Regions from separate parts of the Homo sapiens genome. Here region 1 is linked to region 2. Evidence: fine-mapped expression QTL. A gene starts in region 2. The other region holds a variant in brackets. All regions are shown on one strand. Distances are between the middles of the regions.

Region 1 (2,914 bases), 22 kb after region 2:
TGTCCTATCTTATTCTACTTTTAAAATTCTGGAGAAATATTGGCTACCTTGATTTCATGACCCTTCCATGGATCTCAACCCTTAGCAAAGCTTCCAGGCTCAACCCTCAGCTGGCTCTTTGGGCCTTGGACTTGGCTAGTCTGCATTCCCTCAACCTCCCCATCCACTACCTGCAATGCAGTAAAGTTTCCAAGTCTTACGCTTCATCTCCTGGTGATTCTGGCTCCTGCTTTCCCCTGTGACAGTTAGTCAGACACACTGACATTTAGCTCACCACTATGCTAACCATTTTTGTTCTGCCCAATCCTCTCTGGCCTAAGCCACTGTGAAATAGACTGGTTAGATCTTGTTGGGTCCTCACAGGGCCTTTTGTCACATTTGAGCCTCTCTTGAGTTCTGACACCAATAAGTCATAAATGAAACAGAGAGAAATGATTATTTTCTAGAACAAAGATAAAAAAACTGGAGCATTACAAAAAGCCACTTCTTTACTTAGATTTCTTTATATTCAGATGCTGTTTCCTTTTTTATTTCCTTCTCTCTTTGTTACTCTGAATGAGGTGCTCAAGTAAGTGTTTGTCCTATTTAAATAGAGAACCTCATCACCATGCATGTTCAGTGTTGGCTTTGCCTGTAGAAGTGTAGATTTGTCCAGAATTTCTGCAGAAATACTGGGTACATGCAGGTTCACCAGCAACTCTCACCCCCTGAAATCAAGTCCAGTCTAGCTCTTCATAAGTACATAAATCATTTTAGGGAAGGTGAAAGTTCATCTGGTCCAATATTTCTCCTCTGTTTTGCTTTATCTTAATCCTGTTTCGCTATTTTTTTCACCACGCCCTTAATCTTTGCTGTCTCTAAAAGAAGCATAACTGCCTCTTCTTAACTTTCATAAACTCTGTTAGAAGCACTTTCTTCAATAACTTGTTCCATATGTTGCATACATGAGCTCCATCAAGATCCCCCTTCCCCCCACTGCTTCCTCAATTTTGCATGGCATCCATCAGTGTTTGAATCATTACAAGTAAAGGGGGAAAATACCCTCCAATGCCATCCCAATGGGACCTTTCTCTTTGGCATGTTCAGCATGTCCCATCATTTAGAAGGCTCTGTGTGGTTTTCTGGAAGTTTTTCTAACCCAGTGAGAAACAGCTGGTTTACCTTCACTGTCCTCTCCTTCTTTCCTTTGAAAGCTCCATATGGCTTGGGTGATGCCGCCTTGCCCTACTCAGGACAGCTTCCTGGGATGAAGGACAGCAAACACCTCTATCTTCCTTAGAAGGGTCCAACAAGAACTCTGAGTAGACCGAGGACACCTCTCTGGGTTTCCAGTCAATTTCCTCTGTAAACAAGCGCTCAGATTTTGGCCATTCTTAACTGTAGCTGATGATTTAAAAATATATATTTTTTCATTTTCTAAATAACTCCACTTATCTCCATTCTAGTTCTTTTTGTGATCTTTGCCCATATTTGACTGTTTCGTGAGACACATACTTAATAGCCAGGTCTCTGCTCCCAGACTAATTATTTCATTTCTCACTAATAATAATAATAATTACTTTTACTTTTCAGGTGGCTATATCTTTTCCTTGTGATGAGAGTGTTCCTTTCTGTGCACTAGCAGGCTTTATCATCCTTCACCTCTTTCTACATCTCTGAAACAGGAAAGGTAGCCACTCCCTTCTCCCCTCACTTGCTTTGGGGCCTTAGTGCCACAGGTGCTA[G/C]GAGCTCTCAGATGGTTTATAGGGCCTGGCAGGGCTGCAGTAATGGGGAATCACACTTCATTATTGCTGTTTTCTAAGTCCACCCTTTTTTAAATGGCTACCAGGACACTGTTTTAGAGTGTTTTCCATGCCTCCCAGGCACAGAACCCCTGTGGATGTGGCCAGCCTATAGAGGCTGTGCAAAGGCTCATAAGAAAAAAACTGATACCTGGTGAATATTTTGTTACAGCACTAATTTCTTCCTTTTTTTCCCTCTTCCCAATCTTATAAATATGTCACTGGAGAAATGTCTATTCAAGTTCTTAGCCCAGTTTTTTTTTCAAAAGAACCAATATTTTTAAAATAAGTGTACTACACAAACCAATCTATAAATTCAATGCAATTATCAAATTACCAATGTGTTTTTTTCACAGAATTAGAAAAAAACAGTGCTAGAATTTATATAAAACCAAGTATGTGTGTAATAACCAAAGCAATTCTAAGCAAAAAGAACAAATCAGGTTACTTTAAAAAAAAAATTCAGTTGTAGAGGGTTCTGAGGTATTCTGGAGTTTAACCCTGTATCAGATGTATGGTTTGCAAGTATTCTCTCTCATTCCATAGGTTGCCTTTTCACTCTCTTACTTGTCTCCTTTGCTGTTCAGAAGCTTTTTAGTTTGATGTAATTGACTTATTTTTGTTTTCATTGCCTGTGCTTTTGGTGCCATATTCATGAAATCATTGACTTCTTCCTTATGTTTTCTTCTAGGAGTTTTTATAATTTCAGGTCATAAATTTAAGTCTCTGACCCACATTGAGTTGATTTTTGTGTATGATAGAGGATAATGGTCTAATCTCTAAAGGAGACACACAAATGGCCAAGTATATTAAAAATGCTCAATGTCACTAATCATCAGGGTAGTGCAAACCAAAACCACAATGAAATATTATCTCATACCTGTTAGGGTAGCTATTATCAAAAAACAAAACAAAAGACTACATCTGTTGGTGAGGATGTGGACAAATTGGAAATCTTGTACACTGTAGGTGGGAATGCAAAATGGTGTAGCTGCTAAGAGAAAGTGTGGAGGTTCCTCAAAAACTAAAAACTAGAACTACCATATGATCCAGCAATCCCACTTCTGGGTGTTTATCCAAAACAGTTGAAATGAGAATCTTGAAGAGATAGTAGCACTCCAGTGTTTATTGCA
Region 2 (2,914 bases):
TAAATAAAATAAATAAATATCACTGGAGGTAAGCCAGGTGAACTGGATAGTAACAGAGTTGGATAATACTTTGGGAAATCACACATACACACACCAAAAAACCAAAACCAAACCAAAGATGCAGCAAAAAAATTAACGGAGATGACGTTCTTAGATTGATCCAAAGTTGCCTCCGTGTAATTTCACAAGCGTTTCCAAAATATTCTAGGCAAGAGGCAATTTCCAAAAGATTCTAGCAAGAGTTACTGAAGGTCAATATTCTTATGCAAACATTTTGTTTTTTTTTTTTGAGGGGTTGTGGGGGAAATGAGGAAGTGAAGGAAATCCTATTATTTAATAATTACATGGAGGAAAAACGACTGGTAAATTTGAAAGGTAGTTTTTAGATAAAAAACCAAAATACCTTAAGAAATGTCCTTAAATTTCCATATGTATGTCTGGCACCCTTAACTAGGGGGCCATGGAGAGAAGGAAGGTAGACGGTTTAATGTTCACAATAATTAACCCTTTTGTAATGAATTTAATCTCATCTTAACTCCCTGAGTTAAAAAAATAAAACAAACTGAGTCAGGTGCGATGGCTCGCAACTGTAATCCTAGCAGTTAGGGGAGGCAGAGGCGGGAGGACAGCTTGAACTCAGGAGTTCAAGACCAGCCTGGCCAACACAGTGAGACTGTCTCTACAAAAAATACAAATTAACCGGGCTCGTGCCTGTAATCCCAGTTTACGTAATCCCAGATTACAGGCTCGTGCCTGTAATCCCAGCTAGGGTAGGCCGAGGTGGGAGGATCTTTGAACCCGGGAGTTGGAGGCTGCAGTGAGCTACGATCGTGCCACTGCACTCCAACCTGGGCGACAGAGCGAGACTCCATCTCAAAAAACAAACAAAACAACAAAACTGAGCTAAAGACAAATAGGATTGACCTGGGGAGTGGGGTCTGAGGCAATGGGATGAGGCTGTCTAACAGGGCACCTCACAGGGAGATGAGAACCGCTTGGCCACACAGAGGCAAAATGCGGCCGAGGTCAGCACAGCCCTCTCGGGGTTAAGAACGGGGCGCCTGAGGGGTATCCCGGTCCCCGACTAGAACCTCCTACGCGCTGGCAGCCAGAAACAGGATGAAGGAGACTGGCGCGGACTGCGGGCTCTGCGGGCGGGGCGGGGCGGGGCGGGGCGGGGCGGGGCGGGGCGGGGGCCAGCCCTCTGGGGCATGCCGGGGGGCGGAGTCTGCGCTGAGTGAAGAGGTGCCAGAATCCGCGAAGAGGGTCGACGAATGCGCTGCCGCGGAGGGTAGGGCGCTGAGGGTCTGAACCCTGATGCAAGGAGGGGCTGGAGGTCGCGGGCACGTTTCTTTTGGGTTGGGCGGCGGAGGGGCAGCTCTAGGGCCTGGAGCAGGGCTTTACCAGAACAGTCCACCCCTCCCGCCCGGTTAACCTGAGCGTCTCTTTCGCCTTGGCTTGGTTCCGGTCGCTACTGTGGGTGCCGCCGCCGCAGCCTTTGGGCTGCTCGACCATACCCCGTCTTAGAAGGTCAGGTGTGCAAAACTTGGACTCGACTTCATCCAAGAGCTCGTCCAGGTCCTCCGCCATCTTGAATCGCCTGGCCTTTTCCCCTCCAATCGCCAAGGCTCCGGTGGTTTCCAGGAGTAACGAGGGGACCTGGCGGGCTCCTGCCCCGTTAGGCGTCCCCGCGCATGCGCACCGCTTCCCGTGGCAACCCGGCGCCCACGAGGGCTCGCGGCAGAGAACGCGGTGGGTTCGTGAGGGGCGGGCGTATGCAGGGACAGAGTTCGGAGCTGTCTCTGCAGTGTGTCTGTGTGACTCGCGATGCTTTGCGTTTCTTCCTTTCAGCATGTCTGGCGTGGTTCCTCCCGTCTCCCCCTCCCGGGCCCACGTTGTAACCACAAGCACGCATTCTCGCCCCTTCATTCTCTCCTCTCCCGTTTGGGTCCCTGTTGTGTTTCAGCCGTTTGTAAATTCCTGAAATCTGTGGAAGGTTTGAGCAGAACGCTCTAAAACACAAAAAGTAAGTGTTGACGGCAAAAAGCTGACATTCCCGTAGTCGGCAGGATTCGAACCTGCGCGGGGAGACCCCAATGGATTTCTAGTCCATCGCCTTAACCACTCGGCCACGACTACTGGCTGTGTGAATTTTTGCGGTGAGAGTGCATGTAGACTCTGCATAAGCGTCTGCTGCAGCAATAGGCACGTTTTGATGTGGAGGAAACCATTACTGAGCTGTTCTGTTAAGAGCATATTTGAATGTTACCTCGCTCATCATTTTACAGTTTGTAAAAGTCTTAGAACGTATCCCGTCCAACTCTTTGTTGGAAAAAACGGAAATTCTAATTAAATCCGAGAGAGAGAGAGAGAGAGACAGAGAGAGAGATGCGTGCTCAAAACTATTGCACACCCACTTGCTTGCACAATGTTGGAGCCATTTCCAGGAGAGAACCAGGAACCGGGTAGGGGCCAACCAGCTTCCCGACTTCCTTGTGGGGCTGCCAGTTCCACTCCTTCGCCTTTCTCTTTGACAAACGGCTCCCAGGACTATCTTTTCACCCATTATACATTAAAAAGCTATTACCCAGCGATTTAAATTCACTCTGCAGGGTCAGACAGTCCCACCGTGCCATAAAAGCACTACTTTGAAAAGTGTAAAGCGTGATACAAGTGTAAGGTATTGTAAATGGCATTCTTAATAAATACTGTGCATAGTTTAACCTGTGTTTTGGGTATTTCTAAAGTGGGGTAGCAAAGAGGTTGGCACCCTTGGGAACTCTGGAGATAGTTTGATCCAGATGATTTGTTTGTTCAAAGTATCTTTTAAGGTCCCTGAAGAGCAACATGTAGTGGTGTGCTGGAGCCAATGGGACATGCTCACTCCTACCCAGTGATAAATTTTCAAGGATTT

Direction of the effects. Positions count from the first base shown, and alleles are read on the strand shown. Sizes are in standard deviations (SD) of each study's normalised expression.
For the expression in breast of the gene that starts at base 1,602 in region 2, G is the high allele of the variant in region 1 and C is the other (small effect, 0.36 SD a copy in GTEx).

What was found. PIP is the estimated chance that this variant, and not a neighbour inherited with it, causes the effect.
Region 1: its variant is fine-mapped to the expression of CFAP418 in breast (GTEx, PIP 0.99).

What each region holds. Positions count from the first base shown.
Region 1 is chr8:95,289,137-95,292,050 of GRCh38, forward strand. The region is part of intron 1 of CFAP418-AS1 (CFAP418 antisense RNA 1); the gene reads left to right. Among named protein-coding and RNA genes, the nearest start is that of TRS-AGA2-5, 21 kb to the left of the region's middle. The variant G/C (reference allele first, on the strand shown) is at 1,725.
Region 2 is chr8:95,267,600-95,270,513 of GRCh38, forward strand. It overlaps CFAP418 (cilia and flagella associated protein 418), which reads right to left and starts at 1,602. Exons shown (of 6, transcript NM_177965.4): 1 at 1,436-1,602. The coding sequence starts at 1,590. CFAP418-AS1 (CFAP418 antisense RNA 1) reads left to right here and starts at 1,237. Exons shown (of 4, transcript NR_038209.1): 1 at 1,237-1,291. It overlaps TRS-AGA2-5 (tRNA-Ser (anticodon AGA) 2-5), which reads right to left and starts at 2,139; the gene lies at 2,058-2,139. RefSeq lists enhancers at 1,194-1,633, 1,588-2,227, 2,264-2,343.